7 linked regions of the Homo sapiens genome follow. The protein of the gene in region 4 interacts with the protein of the main gene of each other region in a biochemical or structural test. Each region holds a gene or a part of one and is shown on either strand. Other genes may lie near its edges. The genes, in order: DAO, EPHX2, IDH1, PEX5, PAOX, HAO1 and MLYCD.

Evidence for each region.
Region 1: the proteins of PEX5 (region 4) and DAO interact in a test that uses a peptide from one of them, tested with the Homo sapiens proteins (one large-scale study listed by BioGRID).
Region 2: the proteins of PEX5 (region 4) and EPHX2 interact in a test that uses a peptide from one of them, tested with the Homo sapiens proteins (one large-scale study listed by BioGRID).
Region 3: the proteins of PEX5 (region 4) and IDH1 interact in a test that uses a peptide from one of them, tested with the Homo sapiens proteins (one large-scale study listed by BioGRID).
Region 5: the proteins of PEX5 (region 4) and PAOX interact in a test that uses a peptide from one of them, tested with the Homo sapiens proteins (one large-scale study listed by BioGRID).
Region 6: the proteins of PEX5 (region 4) and HAO1 interact in a test that uses a peptide from one of them, tested with the Homo sapiens proteins (one large-scale study listed by BioGRID).
Region 7: the proteins of PEX5 (region 4) and MLYCD interact in a test that uses a peptide from one of them, tested with the Homo sapiens proteins (one large-scale study listed by BioGRID).

Annotation. Positions count from the first base shown.
Region 1 is NC_000012.12:108,890,092-108,893,591, forward strand, and holds part of DAO (D-amino-acid oxidase), read left to right. Parts: intron 1-116; coding exon 117-182; intron 183-2,890; coding exon 2,891-2,945; intron 2,946-3,373; exon of another isoform or gene 3,374-3,500. UniProt on the Homo sapiens protein: Catalyzes the oxidative deamination of D-amino acids with broad substrate specificity. Required to catabolize D-amino acids synthesized endogenously, of gastrointestinal bacterial origin or obtained from the diet, and to use these as nutrients.
Region 2 is NC_000008.11:27,497,643-27,501,142, reverse strand, and holds part of EPHX2 (bifunctional epoxide hydrolase 2), read right to left. Parts: intron 218-3,500; coding exon 133-217; intron 1-132. UniProt on the Homo sapiens protein: Bifunctional enzyme. The C-terminal domain has epoxide hydrolase activity and acts on epoxides (alkene oxides, oxiranes) and arene oxides. Plays a role in xenobiotic metabolism by degrading potentially toxic epoxides.
Region 3 is NC_000002.12:208,241,572-208,245,071, forward strand, and holds part of IDH1 (isocitrate dehydrogenase [NADP] cytoplasmic), read right to left. Parts: intron 2,034-3,500; coding exon 1,856-2,033; intron 575-1,855; coding exon 423-574; intron 1-422. UniProt on the Homo sapiens protein: Catalyzes the NADP(+)-dependent oxidative decarboxylation of isocitrate (D-threo-isocitrate) to 2-ketoglutarate (2-oxoglutarate), which is required by other enzymes such as the phytanoyl-CoA dioxygenase.
Region 4 is NC_000012.12:7,196,186-7,199,685, reverse strand, and holds part of PEX5 (peroxisomal biogenesis factor 5), read right to left. Parts: intron 676-3,500; coding exon 573-675; intron 1-572.
Region 5 is NC_000010.11:133,382,262-133,385,761, forward strand, and holds part of PAOX (peroxisomal N(1)-acetyl-spermine/spermidine oxidase), read left to right. Parts: intron 1-590; exon of another isoform or gene 591-678; intron 679-1,698; coding exon 1,699-1,951; intron 1,952-3,500. UniProt on the Homo sapiens protein: Flavoenzyme which catalyzes the oxidation of N(1)-acetylspermine to spermidine and is thus involved in the polyamine back-conversion. Can also oxidize N(1)-acetylspermidine to putrescine.
Region 6 is NC_000020.11:7,912,959-7,916,458, forward strand, and holds part of HAO1 (2-Hydroxyacid oxidase 1), read right to left. Parts: intron 1,462-3,500; coding exon 1,206-1,461; intron 1-1,205. UniProt on the Homo sapiens protein: Broad substrate specificity (S)-2-hydroxy-acid oxidase that preferentially oxidizes glycolate.
Region 7 is NC_000016.10:83,902,115-83,905,614, reverse strand, and holds part of MLYCD (malonyl-CoA decarboxylase, mitochondrial), read right to left. Parts: intron 1-3,500. UniProt on the Homo sapiens protein: Catalyzes the conversion of malonyl-CoA to acetyl-CoA.

The sequences.
Region 1 (3,500 bases), about 100 Mb from region 4:
CCTGGCACTACCCTTTGGGCCCACAGAACAACATTGCTCCCACCTCCATTTCACAGCCTTCAAATATAGCTCTGATTTTTACCTTTATTTCCACCTTTTGCTTACTGTGACTCTAGCTATGGCTGGTTCCACACAAGCCTAATTCTGGAGGGAAAGAACTATCTACAGTGGCTGACTGAAAGGTGAGATTTTAAGCTTCACTTTGAGGGAGGTACCTCCCAGAGACCAAGTTGTAGTGGAAGATGGTTCGTGGGCTTCCCTCAGCATGGACTAACCCCCAGGTTTGAAGAATACCCTTAGGCCTGGTGTGGGAGCTATCCTTGGTCCTGATCACCGCTGGGCACAGAGGCAATGGATCCTGAGCCTAGCTGAGCATCAGAACCACCTGGGCAGCTGTTTACACATGATGTCCATTAACAACCTCTTTCAAATCCCTAATGTTTGTGTAATAGTTTTAGATGTATTCTTTTAAGGTTTCCAGATACATTTACATCATCTGCAAAACATAAGCTGCCTTTTATTTTTATCTCCCTCTCTCTTTTTTTTTCTTCTCTAACTGCTTTGGCCAATACCTCTAGAACAATGTTACTCATACAGATGATAGTGGATGGCTTTGACTTGTTCCTCATGTTAATAGGAATCTTGCAGTGTTCTAAATTAGCAAACACTCACTTGAGAGATACATTGGTATTTATATTCACATACATTCATATTAAGGGAGATTCCATACCTTTTTTGTGTGTGTGAGATGGAGTCTCGCTCTGTCACCCAGGCTGGAGTGCAGTGGTGCGATCTTGGCTCACTGCAAGCTCTGCCTCCTGGGTTCATGTCATTCTCCTGCCTCAGCCTCCTGAGTAGCTGCGACTACAGGTGCCTGCCACCACCACACCTGGCTAATTTTTTGTATTTTTAGTAGAGATGGGTTTTCACCATGTTAGCCAGGATGGTCTCAATCTCCTGACCTCGTAATCTGCCCGCCTCGGCCTCCCAAAATGCTGGGATTACAGGTGTCAGCCACCACGCCCAGCCTGATTCCATACATTTTTTATATATTACTGTTTTTTAAAGATTTTTAGGCCAGGCATGGTGGTTCATACCTGTAATCCTAGCACATTGAGAGGCCGAGGTGGGCAGATCACTTGAGCCCAGGAGTTCAAGACCAGCCTGGGCAACATGGCAAAACCCTGTCTCTACAGAAAAATTCAAAAATCAGCCAGGTATAATGGTGCATGCCTGTAGTCACAGCTACTTAGGAGGCTGAGGTGGGAGGATGGCTTTATCCCGGGAAGGAGAGGCTGCAGTGAGCTGTGATCATGCCACTGCACTCCAGCCTGGGTGACAGGGCGAGACCCTGTCTCAAAAAAAAAAAAAAAGATTAAAAAAATATGGAATATATAGTGGCTTTTATCAGATGACCTCAGAAGATTTTTTTTAAATGTAGATTTTAGGACCCCACTCTATACCTGCTGAATTAGAACTTCTGGGATAAGGTTCATAAATTTGCTTTTTTTCATTTTTTTGAGACAAAATCTTACTTTGTCACCCAGGCTGGAGTGGGATGTAGTGGTATGAACACAACTCACAGCAGCCTCAACTTCCTGGGCTCAAGTGATGCTCCCACCTCAGCCTCCAAAGTAGCTGGGACCACATGCATGTGCCACAATGCCTATCTAATTTTTAAATATTTTTGTAGAGATAGGGTCTCACTATGTTGCCCAGGCTGGTCTCAAACCCCTGGGCTCAAGCAATCTTCCTGCCTCAGCCTCCCAAAGTGCTGGGATTACAGGCGTGAGCAAACAGGCCTAGCAAAAATTTGCATTTTAAGAAGCTTCCTGGCGATTCTAATTATCAGCCATGTTTGGGAATCATTGTACTAAGACATGGCTATTTCTCCTAACCTGGGGACACATGACCCTTGTCCAGTCTTTTCCAGGAAAAACATGCCCTCAAGATGTTTTTCTATCTTGAGGAAATGATGGAAATGAGATAGTTCCAAGGGTATGCTTCACCTTCTTTTTGGCTTATTTCCTGTTCTTTGGATGTTTCTAGTGTATTTCTTTCTTTCTTCTTTTTTTTTTTTTTTTTTTTTGAGACAGAGTCTTGCTCTGTCACCCAGGCTGGAGAGCAGTGGCGCAATCTCGGCTCACTGCAAGCTCCGCCTCCTGGGTTCATGCCTTTCTCCTGCCTCAGCCTCCCGAGTAGCTTGGAATACAGGCGCCTGCCACCACGTCTGGCTAATTTTTTTTTTGTATTGTTAGTAGAGACGGGGTTTCACCGTCTTAGCCAGGATGGTCTCAATCTCCTGACCTCGTGATCCGCCCACCTCGGCCTCCCAAAGTACTGGGATTACAGGCGTGAGCCACCGCGCCTCGCTGTTTCTAGTGTATTTCTAATCGTGATAGATGTTTTTCCTATGGGATGTTTAAAAGGAGGGTGGATGTCCTCAGCCCACCTCCCTCCTCATGCCCGGCTTCTGACAAAGGGGAATTTGGCACTGGTACAACTCTCCCCTTCTCTACTCTGAATCTCATCGCCTTTGCTGTTACAAAGCAATGTGGTGGTCATAGGAAGTGCTGGGGGCTAAGAGGCCTGGGTTTGAGTTCCAACTCCATCATTGACTCACTCTATGGCCTTCAGCAAGGCCCTTCCCCCACTCCATCTGCCCAACAAGGGGCTTGGACCATCTCTGGTTTCTCAAAGGAGATTTTGTGGACCACCAGTCCAGTAGGTGCTCATGAGCTGATTTGATGACACAGCCATCTTCTCAAGCAGCATCCTGTGCAACTAACGTCCGCAGAAGGTTGTTTGGGAAAGGTCCCTGTGCCACCCTCTTGGTGGGATGGGGCAGATAGCTGAATACTGGGCTTTTTGATGTGTTTGATCATCCCAGGTTAACTGAGAGGGGAGTGAAGTTCTTCCAGCGGAAAGTGGAGTCTTTTGAGGAGGTGAGTTGCAGGGCTGATGCGGTGGATGGGGCAGGGAGAAGAGGGGAGGCCTCTGCTTCTTGCTGCTGAGTCGGGGGCTCCCTTCTCAGGCTCCTAGGGTCCCCACAGGCCTGCCTCAGACCCTTGCCCCAGAAGCACTCAGGTATTCTGAAGGAGGAAGTCTCTGCCTTCATGTTGGTAGTGGGAACAAAGGAACACTGGGATCATGGTGGCCATTAGGAGCTGATTTATATCTGAGACTCAATGAGTTTTGGGTCTAGAGAGCTGGCCGCATTTTCTCAGTGTCAGCTGCACTCCAAGGTCAGAACTTGGTTGCTTCCTAGCCCTACCGACATCTGTGTTGGTCTTTCTGCAAAGTCCAGGCCCTCAGCTGACTCACCTCTAAAGAAGCACCACCACCAATAATAATGACAGGAAAAGCCACCATCTCCAGGCACCAGCAAAAAGAGCTTTACTGTATGGCTTCATTCAATCCCAGCATCTAAAACCCTGCTTGGCACAAGGAAGGCGCTCCGTACATGTAGCTACTAGTGCTATGTCATGAAGACTAACCTG
Region 2 (3,500 bases), on a different chromosome or scaffold from region 4:
ACCATTAAAACAACATTTGTCTTCACAGAAAAGGTGGGTGTTTTCTATTATGGTGGGCCCCAAGTTCGGGGAGATGGGCACACAGGCAGAGAACGTTCATCCAAAGGGCTCTGTGTGGTGATGTCCCCTCACCTGGGAAAGTGTGATCTCTCCTTTCATAAGCCGGGTAGTGGCACCCTCTGGTCCCCCTTTCTGGAAAGCATCATTCAGAAGTCCTCTGGAAAACACAAAGAACATCAGGAACATTCTGTGGATTTTGTCATGGCAGCACATGGAAACAGACACTGTTCATATTCATTGAGAAGCAGCCACTAGAAAGGGATACTGCCAGGAACTGGAAAATGCAAACGCAGTTCAAATTGGGATCTTTGCGCGCAAGGAGCCATCCAGCTGAGGACATGAGACCATACAGTAAATCACAGTATGTTCCACAGAGAAGCTGCCCATGGGAAACCACCTAATAGCAGCTTCACCCAGAGGCGCTTCCTACTTTACTATATAACGGTCAGAACCGAGAGTGGGCACGCGGCCATTACTGTCCTCGTGTGCACCAGGCATGGTCTCAAAGAACTTTTTCATGAGTTCACCTTCTTCAAAAAGAATGGAATATGTTTTTTGTGGTTTCGATTCTGCCTCTCTAGTTTCTATTTTATCTTAATGTCATCTTCTAACCTTTAAAAAGTTTCCTGTATTAGTCTGTTCTCACACTGCTATAAAGACGTACCTCAGATCGGGTAATTTATAAAGAAAAGAGATTTAATTGGCTCATGGTTCTGCAGGCTGTAGAGGAAGCATAGCTGGGGAGGCCTCAGGGAACTCACAATCATGGCGGAGGGTGAAGGGGAAGCAAGGCACGTGTTACATGGTTGGAGCAGGAGGAAGAGAGAGAAGAGGTAAGTGCTACACACTTTTATAAACAACTAGATCTCATGAGAACTCACTCAACATCACGAGAACAGCAAGGAGGAAATCCACCCCCATGATCCAATCACCTCCCACCAACCCCCTCCTCCAACATTAGGGATTACAACTGGACAGGAGATTTGGGTGGGGACACAAATTCAAACCATATCACTGTGTTAAGGCTGGGTTGTATACCCCCATCCCAAATACATACATTGAAGTTCTAACTTCCAATACCTCAGGATGTGACTGTATTTGGAGAGTGGGTCTTTAAGAGGTAATTGAGTTAAATAAGATCATACAGGTGGGCTCTAATCCAACAATAGGACTGGTGCCCTTATAAGGCGATTAGGACACAGACACACACAGAGAGTCAACCATGTGAGGACACAGGGAGAACACTGTTAACAAGCCAAGGAGAGAGGCCTCAGAAGGAACCAACCCTGCTGACATCTTGATCTTGGACTTCCAGCCTCCAGAGCTGTGAGAGAAAACATTTCCATTGTTGCCATCCAGTCTCTGTTTGCTGTTACAGCAGCCTCAGTAAATAAATACACTGAGTAACAGAACAAATGTATTTATGTGTACGAATGCATTTGTTCTATTACTCAGGTCTGGAAAGTAATTTTAACTGGCTTGCCAATCCCAGATGAATTCCAGTTGAAGTGGCAAGCCAGTTAAAATTACCAGCCCTGAGTAACAGAACAAATATCCCCATCCTGGGAGCTTTATTTCTGATAATAGTCAAGTATACCTTTTATCAGACACCCTCTTGCAGGTAACAGTGGTCAGCTCTGGACCAACTATATGGAGACATATACCTAATATCTGTGGCCTTGCTCAACTTTTCAATGTCAGCAATGGTTTTCCCATACCTTTGCCAACAGTTGTTGGTTTTTTAAACAGCTTTGTTAAGGTATAATTACTGCTATGGTTTGAACGTTTGTCTCCTCTGAAGCTCATGTTGAAATTTAATCCCCATTGTGGCATTAAATTAAAATTGAGAGGTGGGCCTTTAAGAAGTGATTGGGTCATGAGGGCTCCACCTTCATGGATGGATTAATTCATCCATAGGCTAATGGGTTAATGAGTTAATGGGTTATCATGGGATTGGGACTAGTGGCTTTATAAGAAGTGGAAGTGAGGCCTGAGCTAGCACACTGAGCCCCCTCACCATATGATGCCCTGTGCTACCTTGAGACTCTGCAGAGAGTCCCTACCAGCAAAAATGCCCTCACCAGATGCAACCCCTCAACCTTGGAATTATCAGCCTCCATAACTGCAAGAAATAAATTCCTTTTCTTTATAAATTACCCAGTTTCAGATATCCTGTTGTAAGCAACAGAAAATGGACTAAGACAATTACATAGCATTAAATTCATGTAGTATGACAATTCAATGATTTGCAGTAAATTTACAGTTGTGTAAGCATCACCACATTCCAATTTTAGAACATTTCCACCTCCTCCAAAAGACTCCTGGTCCCTTTCAGTATCTGCTCCTCAGTATTAAGAAGCAATGCAATATTCAACTTAACAATCCTATTGAGCATCTTAGGTATGTGAGGCATTGTGCTATGTGCTGTGATGCAAAAGTGGAAAAATATGATGCTATTCATAGGAAGCTCACAGAAGAACAAGGGAGGCAAGGTATAAACAAATAACTACAAGACACTAGGTGAGTGGGAAAACAGGGGAAAATTATTTCTTCTTCTTAGAGAATGGGAGATGATAAAAGAAGAGGAACTAGGGAAAGAATATAACTATACAGGAAGAAGATACCACTGAATCTATAAAACAAGGGCAGGTGGTCATTAAAAAAAAAAGCAACTTGATACAACAAGAACATTCTTGGTATTGGAAACATGAGCTTACCTCCATATCCTAGCCTAGCTCCAGCTCCTCTTCCTGTTAATGATAAGCCTCCTCTAATCTCCCCCACTCAGAAGGAAACAAGCAAAGAAATCTCCAAGGGACCATAAAACCCCCGGGCTATCGGTTATGTCCCCTTCAAGCTGTAGGGGGAGGGGAATTTGGCCCAACCTGGGTATATATCCCCTTCTCCCTCTCTGATTTAAAGCAGATCAAGGTAGACCTGGGGAAGTTTTCAGATGATACTGATAGGTATATAGATGTCCTACAGGGTCTAGGGCAAACCTTCGACCTCACTTAGAGAGATGTCATGCTATTGTTAGATCAAACCCTGCCCTTTAATGAAAAGAATGCGGCTTTAGCTGCAGCCTGAGAGTTTGGTATCTTAGTCAAGTAAATGGTATCTTAGTCAAGTAAATGACAGAATGACAGCCAAAGAAAGGGACAAATCCCTACCGGTCAACAAGCCGTCCCCAGTATGGATCTCCACTGGGACCTAGACTCAGATCATGGGGACTGGAGTCGCAAACATCCGTTGACCTGTCTTCCAGAAGGACTAAGGAGAATTAGGAAAAAGCCCATGAATTATTCAATGATGTCCACCATAACTCAGGAAAAGGTAGAAAATCCTACTGCCTTCCTTGAGCGGCTACAGGAGGCCTTAAGAAAATATACTCCCCTGTCACCTGACTCCCTCGAGGGTCAATTGATTCTAAAAGATAAGTT
Region 3 (3,500 bases), on a different chromosome or scaffold from region 4:
AGAGGGACATGAGTAGGTCCTGCTGCCCAATAAATGAGCTTTGCAGGCACCAAAGCTTGGTTATGACATGATCAAGCTCCTCACTTTATCCCTCCTTGCCTGAGTGCCCTGGTTTTTTACATTTTCACCAAAGGACAAGGAGGGCAGGGAAAGGGAGTGATTTTCAGATCAGGTAGGCTTTAAAACTTCAAGGAGTGACACTGGAGCCAGGAGTGTCAATCCACTAATTTACTTCCCATGTGGTCTTGAGTAAATCATTTCTCTAGTCTGAGCTTAATTTCCTTAGCTGTCAGGTAAGACGGTGGACCTGGAGGTTTAACATTCCAAGATTTTACAACAAAGGACTACAAAACTCCCCTTCCCAAATTAGAGAACTACCCTGGAATGACCCTGTTCCTACAGGCCAGGCTCCACCTCTGTACCTTGGGCCACAGAGTCCGACTGCACGTCACCATCATAGTTTTTACAGGCCCAGATGAAGCCTCCCTCTGATTTCATAGCTTGGGCCACCATGTCGTCGATGAGCCTATGCTCATACCAGATCTTTTGAGCTTCAAACTGGGACTTGTACTGCCTGGGAAACAAAAGGTAAAAGAGAATAATAATAAAGAAAATTGATTTTGTTAGGGATATCATCTGCTTGTCCCAAACAGAAGACCGGACACACAAGAAGCAGCATATTTTAGTAGAAGTAGCAGAAACTCAGGAATCTGACAGACATTGGCTCAAATCCTAGCCCAATCATTTTCTAACTGTAAAACTCAATTTGACTATCTGTAGGAACAATTTTACCCACCTTGCAGGGAAGCCGTGAGAATTAAGTGAGACAGTAGAGTATCCCAATGACTACTTCACTTTTCAGTTTTCATTATACTATAGATCAGATTCTTGAGATTCAGCTTATTTTTAAAATACATTTTTGAAAAGACTGTTCTACTTCTTGGTGTCATTCAGGAAACTAAAATATATTCCAGACAGTTTCTGGGCTTGGTATAGATGGGCAGCAGGAGGAGGAATCAAAATGCCTCAGGAACATTTTGGCCTGAACACTTGCACCTAAAGGGAGTTATGCCAATCTTAAATATTAACACATGCTCACCTCCTGTGCTGTGGAAGCCAGTGTTGTTATAAACTTAGACTTAAGTTCAAATGACTCCACTAAAACAGAATTTTAAATTCTTTTTTTTCTTTTCTTTTCTTTTTTTTTTTTTGAGACGGAGTCTCGCTCTGTCGCCCAGGCTGCAGTGCAGTGGCGTGATTTCGGCTCACTGCAACCTCCGCCTCCCGGGTTCACGCCATTCTCCTGCCTCAGCCTCCCCAGTAACTGGGACTAGAGGCGCCCGCCACCACGCCCGGCTAATTTTTGGTATTTTTAGTAGAGTCAGGGTTTCACCGTGTTAGCCAGGATGGTCTCGATCTCCTGACCTCGTGATCCGCCCGCCTCGGCCTCCCAAAGTGCTGGGATTACAGGCATGAGCCACCGTGCCTGGCCAACAGAATTTTAAATTCTAACAATGGGCTTCAGAAAGAATGGAAATGGGTCTGACTTAGAAACTCACACATGAAAAATTAGAACTTATCACTAACAGCGTACGTTTATTTAAACATTAAAGAACCTGGCTCTGAAAACAATTCATGTGGGGACCTTATTTAAGAACATGTTTATCTTATAAAAGCAAGTCAGAGTGGTTTTGTTTCACTCCTGCTAAACCTCAGTTTTGCCCTTATCTTTAAGAGACAGTGATGATTTTCACTCAATTTACCCAGAATCATAGGGATAGGGAGATACATACTCTATATGCAAATGTCAGCTTACTTGAGAATAAAGAAAAAGTTAAAAAAGAACTATAGTTACTTGTCATATATCTCCTGAAAGATGTCTTTAAAACGCCCATCATATTTCTTCAGAATAGTGTTTTTGGTGCTCAGATACAAAGGCCAACCCTTAGACAGAGCCATTTGGAAGGAACTGTGTGCAAAATCTTCAATTGACTTATCTTGATTATACATCCCCATGGCAACACCACCACCTTCTGTAGAGGAGAAGCCAGTGAGAGGAAAAAAGGGAGAAGAATAAATGTAATGTAGTTGTAATAAGGCTAAAATCACCCACCACAACCAAATGACCTACTTCTCAGCTCTCACATCTGAGACTAGATTTCAGAAGTCCCAGACAGGTTTCCAACAAATTTCTGAGGCACATAATGAGAGAAAAGCCAGTTCTAGATAAGGACATTCTAACTTGTTTTGGAAGGACAGCAGAAATGAAAAAACATACAGTCTTTAAAATCCTGAAGATGCAGAAATGCCAAAAACTGATATGAACCAGAAATACATTTAAGAAAAGGCAAATAATTTTGAAACTTCTTTTACATACTGATATGGTTTGGATATTTGTCCCTTCCAAATCTCATGTTGAAATGTGATTCCCAGTGTTGGAGGTGGGGCCCAGTGGGAGGAGATTGGAACATGGGGTTGGATCCCTTATGAATGGCTTAGGACCATCCCCTTTGGTGATTACGTGAGTTCTCGCTCAGTTAATTCACTTGAAATCTGGTTGTTTAAGAGTCTGGGACCTCCCCCTTCTCTTTCTCTTGTTCCCGCTCTTGCCATGTGATACACCTATTGTCTGTTTGCCTTCTGCCAAGATTGGAAGCTTCCTGAGGCCCTCACCAGGAACAGGTGTTGGAGCCAGGCTTGTACAGCCTGCAGAACCATGAGCCAATTAAACCTCTTTTCTTTATAACTTACGCAGCCTCAGGTATTTCTTTATAGCAACGCAAGAATGGACAAACACCCTACCTTTACAATTCCCAACATCTATTTTAAACTTTAGGGGTGTACTCAATCCTCAGTTATTGAGAAAAACTTAAATTTCAAATACTGAATGAAAATTCTTATAATCTCCTGGAGGATACTGAGCACTCCTACTGTAGTTGGTAGAAATAAGTAGAAATAATTATGCTACATGTAATCACTGTGTTTTACAACTATTATTGAACTTTGTTATTACTTAAAGATAGAACTTGAATCCATGCCAATGCTCAGGGTTAACTTGGGTTCAGGGTGAAAGGTGCTGAAGCCTGCAGAACCAGATTCCAACAGATATTATTTGGAAGAGGCAAGAAAAACAAAAGGTAGGTGAGTGTTGGGTATTTTTGTTTGTGTGAGTGCTTTCAACAACTTCAATAGTGAAGGAAAAGGGCCCACTAATTATTTCAACAACTTTTGGGTGGGATTTGCCATCAAAGGTAGCAGGGTAGCTGGGAAAGAAAAGGCAAAAAGCAAATGTTCTACTTTTTCACAGGATAAATACCCAGAAGGGCAAGAAGAAAACTTCAGCAAATATATAAGGAAACCTCTTCCAGATACAAGAGCCCTACCAGAGCAAAGGGCAGGATTATATGCTGGGTGATTTGAGAATATTAATATTTAATGTATATAATTCATGCACAGCAGATTTCTGCCAACCTTCTCTCTGTGCTTTAAGATAAATGCAT
Region 4 (3,500 bases):
ATGGCGGTTTTGTGGAATAGAAAAGGGGGAAAGGTGGGGAAAAGATTGAGAAATCCGATGGTTGCTGTGTCTGTGTAGAAAGAAGTAGACATGGGAGACTTTTCATTTTGTTCTGTACTAAGAAAAATTCTTCTGCCTTGGGATCCTGTTGATCTATGACCTTACCCCCAACCCTGTGCTCTCTGAAACATGTGCTGTGTTCACTCAGGGTTAAATGGATTAAGGGCGGTGCAAGATGTGCTTTGTTAAACAGATGCTTGAAGGCAGCATGCTCTTTAAGAGTCATCACCACTCCCTAATCTCAAGTACCCAGGGACACAAACACTGCGGAAGGCCGCAGGGTCCTCTGCCTAGGAAAACCAGAGACCTTTGTTCACTTGCTTATGTGCTGACCTTCCCTCCACTATTGTCCTATGACCCTGCCAAATCCCCCTCTGCAAGAAACACCCAAGAATGATAAAAAAAAAAAAAAAAAAGAATAAAGTAAGTTGGTTCGAGAACGTGGATGGAGGAGGCTGGGAAAACTGTCCATACTCCTTTCACGGGATTCGGAAAGAGGTATCTGAACTCACCAGCGATCGGTGGCTGTTCCCTCAGGTTCTCCCAGCCACAGCTTCTCCTCTGATTGCTCCAAATATTCCTCAGCCCAGCGGGCAGGGGACACAGACAAGGGGTCTGCAAGGAGCAGAGAAGTGGGGAAATCACACAGGTTCATTCAGTGTGGGATCAAGGAAAGGGAAAGAGATGCCCATATTCAACTGACCCTCTTAGCCACACCAAAGCAGACAAAACTCTGCTGACTCCCTCAGAAACCCCTGGTCAAAAGAATATAGTACTAAATTTTCAACATCCTCAATATCCAACCCATTCTCAAGGAGCCTGGGGCAGAAATTTACTGAGAGTTGGGAACGGGAGATCAAATAAGGAATCTCAGGAAAGGATTAAGAACCAAACTCTTTTTCTTGAAGTGCAAGATATTTCAATAAGAAATAGGAAGCGGAAGGGCTTTCACTTTCCTCAGAAGTACAGCAGGGAGCCAGTAAGGAGTGAAGGGAGCACAGAAGGGCTCCTGTTCCTTAACCAAGGCACTGGTCTGTTCTCCCTCTACCCAGAGTTCACACAATCCCGGCCAAAGGAGCCTTATTTCATTGTAATTTGCCTACCAAGAGAATCAGAGAAGTGGAATGCTAGGCTAGAATTAAAGACACATAGGTCTGCTCTTCCCTATGGATGTTTGGTGGGTTTTTTCATTTTTTAATTGAAATGTAATATACAAATATGAAACCATATAATGTCTACCAAACTTAAGTGTACAGCTAAATTAACTTCCACATTTGATACACTCACATAACCACCACCCGGATCAAGATACAGAACGTTTACAGTTCCCTCACAGGCTCCCTCAGTCTCCCAGCCCCCAGAAGTAAACACTATTCTGACTTTTCTCACTTTTGATTATCTTTGAGTAGCTATGTTTTTTCAGTCTAATTTTAGAAACTGTCTCAGAAGCTCTAGTGACAAAGGGGACTGCTGCAACATCAGAATTAACCTATCAAGGCAACAAACTCAATGAGGGTGCTGAACTGTTTTTCATCCTCCAGGACTTTGCCCTTTACTATCCTGTGGCCAGAAAAAAAAAACAAGGAGACTGACTGCGGGCACTAAAGAACACAAGGAAACAAAGAGAAGGCACAAGCCTACGGTGTTCTTTCCTTCTGCCCTGTGTCCAGAACTAATCTTACTAGTTAGTCTGCCACCACCTTCCCCTGCTATTCCCCACTCCTGGCCCATGACAAGGACAGTTCCCAAGGGGGAACTCCACTCTCTTGTTGAGAACCTACTAACTCCAATTTGCATTAAAGAGGGACATTTGGGCAGGGGTGTGAAAATATTAGCTGATACTAGCAGTCTTTGTCCCCAGTTTCAAGATCTGACCACCCTTGCTTTTACTACCCCTTCGGTATTAAAGTACAAAAACTTCTACTCCATTTTAACTGAAACTTTGCCTGAATAATGTCAACAAAGTAGTCTCAAAATCTGAGCATGAAATGTCAAAATGTGAAAAACAAAGATCAAGACTCTCAGAATACACCTAATTATAAATAATAAGTAATTACTACTTATTATATTATATATAACATATATAATTACATTATATATAACATATAATTATTACATTATATATAACATATATAATTATTATATTATATATAACATATATAATTATTACATTATATATAACATAATTACATTGTATATGACATATAATTACATTGTATATGACATATATATAATTATTACATTGTATATGACATATATAATTATTACATTGTATATGACATATATAATTATTACATTGTATATGACATATGATTACATTATATATGACATATATAATTATTACATTATATATGACATATATAATTATTACATATGACATATAATTATTACATATGACATATATAATTACATTATATATGACATATATAATTACATTATATATGACATATATAATTACATTATATATGACATATATAATTATTACATTATATATGACATATATTATTACATTATATGACATATATAATTACATTATATGTGACATATATAATTACATTATATGTGACATATATAATTACATTATATGTGACATATATAATTACATTATATGTGACATATATAATTATTACATTATATGTGACATATATAATTATTACATTATATGTGACATATAATTATTACATTATATGTGACATATAATTATTACATTATATGTGACATATATAATTATTACATTATATGTGACATATATAATTATTACATTATATGTGACATATATAATTATTACATTATATGTGACATATATAATTATTACATTATGTGACATATATAATTATTACATTATATGTGACATATATAATTATTACATTATATGTGACATATATAATTATTACATTATATGTGACATATATAATTATTACATTATATGTGACATATATAATTATTACATTATATGTGACATATATAATTATTACATTATATGTGACATATATAATTATTACATTATATGTGACATATATAATTATTACATTATGTGACATATATAATTATTACATTATATGTGACATATATAATTATTACATTATATGTGACATATATAATTATTACATTATATGTGACATATATAATTATTACATTATATATGATGTAATTATTACATTATATATGACACATAATTATTACATTATATATGGCACATATAATTATTACATTATATATGACACATATATGTATGACACATAATTATTACATTATATATGTCATATATAATTAAATTATATATGACATATATAAATTATGACATATATAATTAAATTATATATGACATATAATTAAATTATATATGACATATATAAATTATGACATATATAATTAAATATGACATATAATTAAATTATATATGACATATATAATTATTACATAACATATATTACATTATA
Region 5 (3,500 bases), on a different chromosome or scaffold from region 4:
CTAGGCAAGTAGAGAGAAGTCACTTAATTGCCCAAGTTCACAAAGCTAGCGATTGCCAGCACTCACTTGGAAATCTAGGTGTGATTGACAGGTGTGTGATGAAAAGCAGGAGCCTCCGCAGCCCTAACTCCTGTCTCCAAGGGGTGGCTTTGCCCTCCCCGGGGCAGGGATGAGCACTGAGACCCCATTGCTGTTTCCCAGAGATGCAGTCGTCGTCCACACATGAACATCTGCTGCTGGCTGGGCACGGTGGCTCACGCTTGTAATCCCAGCCCTTTGGGAAGCTGAGGCAGGCGGATCACCTGAGGTCAGGAGTTCGAGACCAGCCTGGTCAACATGATGAAACCCTGTCTCTACTAAAAATCCAAAAATTAGCTGGGCATGGTGGCAGGCACCTGTAATTCCAGCTACTTGGGAGGCTGAGGCAGGAGAATCGCTTGAACGGGGGAGGCAGAGGTCACAGTGAGCCGAGATGGTGTCATTGCACTCCAGCCTGGGTGACAGAGTGAGACTCTGTCTCAGAAAAAAAAAAAAACCAAAAATCTGCTGCTCAGTTTGCCTGTTTTTGTTTTTTGTTTTTTTCTTAATAGAACTTGTCAGTGTTTCCAAATCAGCACACATAGATCTACAGCGGTCTTTTTTGTTTCCCTCCAGTGGCTTTGTTCATTCACGTTTGGAGTAAGTGCTTGCAGGCCCTGCTAAGTGCTGATCACGGGGACATTGTCAGTAGATACATTGCTACAACTGTGAGCATTTTGTTTATAAGGAGCCAGTTCACAAAAATTAGCCGTCGGGTGCCTGTAGTCCCAGCTACTCAGGAGGCTGAGGCTGGAGAATTGCTTGAACCCAGGAGGCAGAGGTTGCAGTGAGCCGAGATTGTGCCATTGCACTCCAGCCTGGGAGACCAGAGCGAAACTCCGTCTCAAAAAAAAAGGAGCGGGTTAATTTGCCACGCAGTGTTTTCTTGTCATTATTTCATAAGCATAGATGGAAATTTAGGTGGCCTTCACTTTTTCTATTTCATGCAGTTTTACATGTGCACTTAAAAACACTTGTGTTGGCCAGGCACGGTGGCTCACGCCTGTAATCCCAGCACTTCGGGAGGCTGAGGCAGGTAGATCACCTGAGGTCACGAGTTCAAGACCAGCCTAACCAACATGGCAAGACCCCATCTCTACTAAAAATAGAAAAATTAGCTGGGCCTGGTCGTGGGTGCCTGTAATCCCAGCTATTTGGGAAGCTGAGGCAGGAGAATCACTAGAACCTGGGAGGTGGAGGTTGCAGTGAGCCAAGATGGCATCGTTGCATTCCAGCTTGGGCGACAGAGTGAGAATCCATCTCAAAAAAAAAAAAAAAAAGAAAACCCAAAAAACAAAAAAACAAAAAACACTTGTGTGAAAGGTGGGGAACAGAGGCTCACGCCTGTAATCCCAGCAGTTTGGGAGGCCAAAGTGGGAGGACTGAGCCAGGGAGGTCAAGGCTGCAGTGAGCCCTGATCATGGTGCTGCATGCACTCTAGCCTGGGCAACAGAGCAAGACCCTATCTCAAAAACAAGGACAAAAAAGTAAAACTGCTTGTGTGAATGTGTCTGTAGGATAAACACCAGCAGGGGAAATTGCTGGATCCAAGGTCTGGACAGACAGGACTTCCGTGGAGGGCTTTATGTGATGTAAGAAGAGTCCAATTCTGAATTCCAGGTTTTCTTAGGGAACATTTGGACACCTTCTTTGACCCTCCCCTGCCGGCTGAGAAGGCAGAAGCAATCAGGAAGATAGGCTTTGGGACCAACAACAAAATCTTCCTGGAGTTTGAGGAGCCCTTCTGGGAGCCAGACTGCCAGCTGATCCAGCTGGTGTGGGAGGACACGTCGCCCCTGGAGGATGCTGCCCCTGAGCTACAGGACGCCTGGTTCCGGAAGCTCATTGGCTTTGTGGTCCTGCCTGCCTTTGCGTACGTTTGCTCCCTGAGAAGTTCTGCGAGTGGCTGGCTCATAGGCCTTCATCTGATGGAGGACGCAGCAGTGTGTCTGTTCACTGCAGGGTATTTCTAGGGGGTTTAATGGGTAGGGTTCCCATGAGCGCCCCCCCACCAGGTGCTGGCTGCACCTGGGCCTGACCCCTGCGGGGACAGATGGCGCCCTGCTGTATGCGGGTTGTCAGCGTCCCTCAGGGCCCAGAATGTGTTTGTAGACTTGCAGGCAGGCTCAGTCTTCAGTCAGTGGGAACGTGTTTACTGGAATGTTGCAGGGAGCTGGGGCTTGTAGATACAGAAGAACTTTGAAACACCATCTGCCCATACGTGGGGAGACAATACTTAAATGGGATGAAATAATTGAAGGAAACATTCCGAGAAGTAATGGAATGGGAGACCCACAGAGGAAGGGCTCCCTTGTATGGGCTGGCCCTCTTAGAAACAGCATATCTAGACCACGTGGCGATTCAGGAGTTAATCCCATGAGTGATGTGGGGATGGAGGGACTGACTTTTCCAGCAAGATTAAAACACAAAGACAGCCTGATATAGTCAGATGGCAGAAATAATTCCACGTTTCCACTGAGAGATGCCGCAGGAGGGGGCACCAAGTTCTTGTTCTGAAAGACCCGGGATGGGGTGGGATGTAGGGCATGCCTGCCAGATGGTTCATAGTTGCCATCCACTGGGAGCAGGAGGCTGCAGGCTGCAGACCAGCCCTGCACCTGTGACGGGGGAAGCCTGTGTGTCTCCTTCACACTGAAGAGAAAACTGGCATTTCGGCCAGGCGCGGTGGCTCATGTCTGTAATCCCTGCACTTTGGGAGGCTGAGGCGGGTGGATCACCTGAGGTCAGGAGTTCGAGACCAGCCTGGCCAACATGATGAAACCCCGTCTCTACTAAAAATACAAAAAATTAGCCGGTGTGGTGGCACGCACCTGTAATCACAGCTACTCAGGAGGCTGAGGCAGGACAATCGCTTGAACCTGGGAGGCAGAGGTTGCAGTGAGCTGAGATTGTGCCACTGCACTCCAGCCTTGGCAACAAGAGCAAAACTCTGTCTAAAAAAAAAAAGAAAGAAAACTGGCATTCCAGGTGTTGAGATAGGCCTGGGTTGCTGGTGGGCAGCCGGGTGGGTGACTGTGTGTAGAGCCACCTGCTCCAGGCCCAGCCCCACCTCCTGTGCTCTCTTGCTTAGGACATCAGTGGGACCCTGAGTGCTTTGGTGGGACCCTGTCTGTGGCACGGGGTGGTAGCTGTCCCATCCTTTTATATACCTGCAAAGGGTTGGGGATCTCAAAGAGCTTTTGTTTATGTGAGTCACATCTGTAAATTTACCCCATGATAAATAAAATATTTTTTTGTTTTTGAGATGGAGTCTCGCTCTGTCCCCCAGACTGGAGTGCAGTGGTGCAATCTTGGCTCACTGCAAGCCCCACCTCCTGGGTTCACGCCATTCTCCTGCCTCAGCCTCCTGAGTAGCTGGAACTACAGGCACCCACCACCACGCCCGGCTAATTGTTTGTATT
Region 6 (3,500 bases), on a different chromosome or scaffold from region 4:
TAAAACTATGTGAAACTTATACAAGACTGCAGCAACTTTCGTGGTGAGATTCACTCCACAGTCACTGAAATAGATATGAAATTCCAGGGGAATATTAATTTGATTTTGGATCTTTTCATTTTTTAATATTTTAGAAGAGTAAACACAGTATGTTTACATGTGGCTTCTTTCGTCTTTTATCTTTTTTCAATTTTGCTAGCCCTAGTTTTTTGTTTTTTTTTTTTTTTCCAAATACAATTCAAACATAGAGTAAGCAAGGGCCTCTGTGGCATGAGATCTGGGAACACAGGAAGACATTCCTCATCATCTTACATATTCTGATGGATGCTGTAGGAGTCCATCATAAAAATGTCCTCCATTAAAACTAAGATTTTGATCCCTTTTAAAATACTTATAGGCCTGAGGTACATTATACATTCATATGAAAAATCCAAGAGCACATTTTGGTGGAAACTGAAGGAAGGAAAATCTGATGGGGAAAAGAGGTGTATAGCTTAAGGAGGTTTGAGTCTTTCCCAGAGACTTCCACTCAGTTTCCAGCTTTGACTCAAGATGATTGTAATCCCAAAATACAACCAGGAAAGAGATAATAATTCACAGCTTGTGGACAGGGTGAATGAATGACCTGATGAAACCTTTATAGTTCAACATCAGATTATGTGATATATTGTTTTTGCTAAGATGAATGATTTGAGTGAATGAATCAATGAATCTTGACCCATGGATGAACCACAGTGAAAGGAATATTGCTGAAAGAAGAAGTAGACAGTGAGGGATCAAAGATGTGGCTTTTTTAAACCTTCATTATTTTCTTTCTTCAATCTTCTTAGCCTTAGCTGTCCCATGTACCATTAAAAATAAAAGGTAAAGGTGGCTCTTTGACTTTAACAAAGAAATAGGGCACCAGGATGATAATAATAAACTGCTGCTTGGGCAAAATTCAGTATCTTCCATCTGTATAGCAATTCATACTTCCCAAAGCCAAAGCCCTTAATGCACTCTGGTCTGAAAATTTATTGGACTTTTATAGAGGCCATTTCTGTTTCTATTGTGTATCTCAAAAAAAGTGATGTCTACAAAAGGGATGTGATTAGCTGAAGATTAACTAGATGTTTAGCAACGTTGCTATCAGTAGAACCCAGACCCTAACATTCCCAGTCAAGATCCCTTTCGCCTCAGCTCGGGGCCCACATGATCATGGTTACCTGAGTTGTGGCGGCAGTTTGAATCTGTTACGCACATCATCCAGACGGTTGCCCAGGTAAGGTGTGTCCACTGTCACAAATATGGCCTTGTAGCCCATCTTCTCTGCCTGCCGCACTAGCTTCTTGGTGACTTCTCGGTCCTTGTAGATATACAGTTGCAGCCAACGAAGTGCCTCAGGACCAGCTTCCGCCACTTCTTCAATTGAGGAGGTGGCCCAGGAACTCAACATCATGCCCGTTCCCAGGGACTGACAGGCTGAGAAAGAAAGGGGATGATCAAGATGGGCCTGGCATTGCTTACCCTCCCAAACCTTTGAATTGTAGTTGGATGAGTAAAGACATCTAGAAGGGCAATTTGGCAATATGAAGTCAAATCTCTTAAAGAGAGAAGAAAGTCTGGCCCATACCATCTATTTCCTGATTCTACCTCCTCTGATACAAATGGCTACTGGAGTTATTTCTGCTCAGTGTTTATTTTCCAATGATTAGAAATATACATTTCTTTCCACACTTTGTATATTGTTCCTGAAGAACAAAATAAATCCAATAGTCAAAGGTGTCTGTAAATACGGGCAAAAAATATTAAGAACCTGAACATCCAGCCTTAGGGGATTGGTTAAATTGTAGGTCATATATAAAATGAAATGAACACACCCATTAAAATTAATATTATTGCTGGGCACAGTGGCTCACGCCTGTAATCCCAGCACTTTGGGAGGCTGAGGCGGGTGGATCACCTGAGGTCAGGAGTTCGAGACCAGCCTGACCAACGTGGTGAAACCCCATCTCTACTAAAAAAACACAAAATTAACCGGGCGTGGTCATGGGCGCCTGTAGTCCCAGCTACTCAGGAGGCTGAGGCAGGAGAATCGCTTGAACCTAGGAGGAAGAGGTTGAAGTGAGCTGAGATTGCAGCATTGCGCTCTAGCCTGGGTGACAAGAGTGAAACTACATCTCAAAAAAAAATAATATTATTATGATAATCAATTTTCTGCATCAATATGCTAAACCATGGTGCCCAGATATTTGGTGAAACATGTCTGAATGCTGCTATGAAGGTGTTTTTTAGATGAGATTAACATTTTAATTAGTAGACTACAGGTAAAGCAGATTATCCCTCATAATGTGAGTGGGTCTTATCTAATCAGCTCAAGGCCTTAAAAATAAGTCTGTGAAGGAGAATAAGAAGAAGGGGAAGGAGAAGAAGAAGGGAAAGGGGAAGGAGAAGGGGAAGAGGAAGGGGAAGTAAGACTGCTAAGAAAAAGAAGAATTCTGCAAGGAGCCTGCCTTCAGACTGGAACTGCAACATCAACATTTCCCTGGTAGCTTGCCCACCTACTCTGCACATTTGAACTTGCAAGCTTCCACAAACACATGAGCCAATTCCTAAAAATGTCTATCTATGGATAGGTGTTTTAGAGATAAAGATAGAGATAGAGAGATAGACTTATGTATGTATCTATCTGTATCTATCGAGAGAGAAAAAGATGAGAAATCTCCAAGGGGGAGATCCTATTAATTCTGTTTCTCTGGAGAACTCTGGGTATTACAATTTTAAAATAATATAGACATAGAAAAATGTTTATGATATATAGATATATTAAGGAAAGAAAAAAGTTTACAAAATGACATGTATTACATGATATCAAATTTGTACAATTCTACTTATTGGTAGATGAATCTAAACAAACTACATGCTAATGATGGGTGGGAGAATTATGGGGTTAGTTTAATTTTTTTCTTCCTTTTTAATTTTAAAATTTTGTCTTTCAAAATTGTATTAAATATATAGTTTACCATTTATGTTGTCTTTTAAAATCTCATAAAATGTGTGTGCTAGATATCCCAAGTAGACACATCCTTTTGAGCAAGGTAGCAGTTACATTTTGGGGGGAAAGGTAGCAAGAAACGGGCAAATAAATGGAAAATTAAATAGAGTCATCTAACTAATAGTTTTAGAGGGTACTTGAGAGAACATGAGTGATAGGTAGGCTTTCTTCCAAAAATTGGTAGTAAAATTGGAGTAAAATTGGAGTCAGCCTTAGTGGAGGAGAAACTGATATAATGTTTATATGCAATATATAAAACAGTCAAATCTGTTATAAAGTATAAATATATTAGAAGTATAAATATATAAAAGTATATTATGTAAAACTCTATTCCTTCAAGTCATTTGACTCATCTGTGTGCCTACCATGCATCAAATGGGTATAAATATACTTGTCCAAATGACACTCACAGGATGTTGATAGGAATCCAGTGAGTTGCTGCTTATAAAGCTATAATGAGAGGTTA
Region 7 (3,500 bases), on a different chromosome or scaffold from region 4:
GAAGGCGGTGTGATGGCTGGCATTGGAGCAGCCATCCTGGGCCACGACGTGGCTTTGGAGATGAAGGTTTTTCTCGGCAGAGCAACAAGATTCAAGTCTGAATCCACCAAGAGCACCAAAGAGCAGAATCAGCTCTGGGCTGCCCACCTCTAGACTTTCACATGACAGACAAACTTCTGTCATATTCAAATCACTGTTATTTTGGGTCTTTGTTACTCATAAACTACATAGTAACAGATCCACTGAACATTATTATTAAATAACAGTAAACATCTCAGGACATCTGATACAAGAATGACCTTCTGAATCTCTCTACAAGGGTCATAAAGAACACAATGGGCAACACCTATAAGAATGGCTTTACAACAGCTAGAATTTTTTTTTTTTTTTGAGAGATGGAGTCTTCCTCTGTCACCCAGGCTGGAGTGCAGTGGTGCAACCCTGGCTCACTGCAACCTCTGCTCCCTAGGTTCAAGCGATTCTCCTGTCTCAGCTTCCAAATTTTATAAAACAATTTTACATTTTAATCCCTGTTAAAGGGTGAAAGGACTCAGAACTTTGACGCCTGAGAAAGAGTTGCAGGTTTTGGGGTGATGGCTCAGAGAAGTTTTCGGAAGGAGATGAGGTCTCCTTTTACATGTTTAAGCACTAGGGCACGAAAGAGGCCACAAATTTGTTCTGTGTGACCCCATGGGGGCCGGGGAAGGAAATCTAGGACTGACTGGTGGAAGTCATGGGCAGTCAGATGTGGACTCAATTTAGTGTAAAGAGGAACTTTTGAATAGCTGGAGCTGTCCACAGAGGTCATCCTGGGAGACGGTGACCCTCAGCACTGGAAGCCATCAAGCACAGGTGGACAGAACTCAACGGAGCTGTTTGAAAACGGATTTAAGCATTAGATAGACAGCTGGACCAGAAGATCTTTGCAATTCCTTTTAACTCTACATTCCATGACTCAATCTCCTTTACTTGGTTGTAAACGCCATAAAAGCAGGATCCACTTCTGATTCATTTTTATAGTTCGCAAAGCATTCACTAATAGATTGATATCAAATGAAAAAGATGGAAAAATGGAATGAATCGTGATTAGGAAGTAGCAAGAGGGCAGGATGAAAGAGATCATTTGCTAGGTGACACAGAATGGCCCTTTGTAAAACTGTACTTTCTGCATTTGACTATAGCAATTCTTAATCTTCCTGGGATCCTCTCACACTCTTACGTGCTAAAAACCATAGGCCCTGCCCCCAAAACACTGCAAATACATTAGTAAAATTGTGCATACGTTTTCCTGGGGTACATGGACTCCTCTGATACTTATCTATGGACCATCCCAGGGGCCAGGAGGGCTTCTGTACCCCAGTTTAGGAACGGATGAGCTGAGCTCTGCGTAAGAGGTACTGGTATCTGTCTTACATTCGTGATATGAAAAAAGCTGGAAATACCTAGTTTTACTATCAATTTAATATTAATTATGAAAGAAATGGTTTGGCTGATGAAAGCTCCTCCCCTACAGATCTCTTCATTCTATTTTGGGCTCCTGACAGCTACAAAATGTGACACTGGTACACGAGAACTGGGAATCCAGGCTAAAGGTTAGAAGTCTCCGTTGCTCAGTTCTAACACCGGCAGCAGCTGTTCAGGCTGGGATGAGCCACAGCACGCGGCAACGTTGCCAGGATACAAACACCACCAGGGAAAGAGGCCTCTGCAACTGTACGTGCGTTAATTCAGGCACCATTTATCACCAATACAAGACTGAGAAACACAACTGCGGGGAATATCCTGGTGATGCTAAGGGCAGCGACAGTTCTCAGTGGATTCTGCTGGAGTGTTTCTTATTTTTTTTTTCAGAGGCAGGTCTTGCTCTGTTGCCTAGGCTGCACTTGAACTTCCGGGCTCAGCTGAACCTCCCAAGTAGCAGGGACTACAGGTGCGTGCCACTGCACCCGGCTCTGTGTATTGTGTATTGTTAATTCCATTGACTTGTATGACACCGTTTAGACCAGCCCACTTTTCCTTTTAAAAGAGAAACTGGTTCCCTCTCTTTTGAAGCTCTATCAAGATCTGCTTATTTTGGTATGTGAAGAAAAGTTACCTTCCCTTGTCCAGAAGCCCTGCTCTGGGGAAGGGAGGATAAAGTCATGGATGAGGGTAGCACTGCAGAGGCTGAGAAATTTGGGGAAAATTCCCACTCACGTAAGCTGACACTCCGCAGGTGTACACTTGATGCTATGGGTATACTGTCCTATCTAAAAATAAGTATTATTTAGCATAGGTAAGCACAGAATTTACTAGAACCAACAAGGAGTACTCAATTAACTAAAAGGCAGAGGGTACGCAGGTGTCTAGCATGGCCGGGTGGCTGTGGCAGTGGGAACCAGGTCCCTTCTCTAGTTTCTGTGCCTCTGTTAAGGTTGGAGCACCTCTCATTCCACCCTAACAGCAAGGTCCAAACTGCCCATGAGGAACCCTTTCCATGAATTAAAGGCCAACCTTCCTCGAGTGCCCACAAATCACTGAACCTCGCTCAGACCTTCCCCTCTACTGGGGATTCGACTCGGTTTCACTGGGATTTCACCTCTAAGAAACTGAAGTCATCAACCAACTGGGCCTCTGGAGAAAAACAAAAAGCCTATAAACCACCATCCCCCAGACACATCACATCCTCATACCCACACCTACCATGCAACCACAGGGACACACATACCTCCAAACTCCTCTACATTCAGGAGGCCACAAATCCAGGCAGTAACAAGCCTCCAAACTCACTCAGATCAGAGGAAAAGAACATTTTAAAAAGTAAGAACACAGCCAGGCACAGTGGTTCACACCTGTAATTCCAGCACTTTGGAAGGCCAAGGCGGGCGGATCATCTGAGGTCAGGAGTTCCAGACCAGCCTGGCCAACATAGCAAAACCCCATCTCTCCTAAAAATACAAAAATTAGCCAGATGTGTTGGCAAGCACCTGTATTCCCAGCTACTCAGGAGGCTGAGGTGGGAGAATGGCTTGAACCTGGGAGGCGAAGGTTGCAATGAGCAGAGATTGTGCTGCTGCACTCCAGCCTGGGCAACAGAGCAAGACTCTGTCTCAAAAAAAAAAAAAAAAAAATCAGATTAAAAAAATAGATCAGATCATACCACATTAAGTGATTCTGGTGAGAGGTTACAATATCAGATCCCAGTTGATAGTTTATAGGTACAGAACAATCTAATTCTATTCTAAGACTGATTTAAGCGACAGGGATTTTAAAAAAATTACATCTGGGCTCACACCTATCTATAATCCCAGCACTTGGGATTGGAGGATTGCTTGCTTGAGGCCAGGAGTTCAAGACCAGCCTGGGAAACGTAACAAGAAAAAACATAAACATGAACAAAAAAATAAACACAAACAAAAAACCGTAAACAACAAAACAAAAAACCATATATATATATATATATATATATATATATATATACGCACGCACACACACACACACACATATACACATACATATAT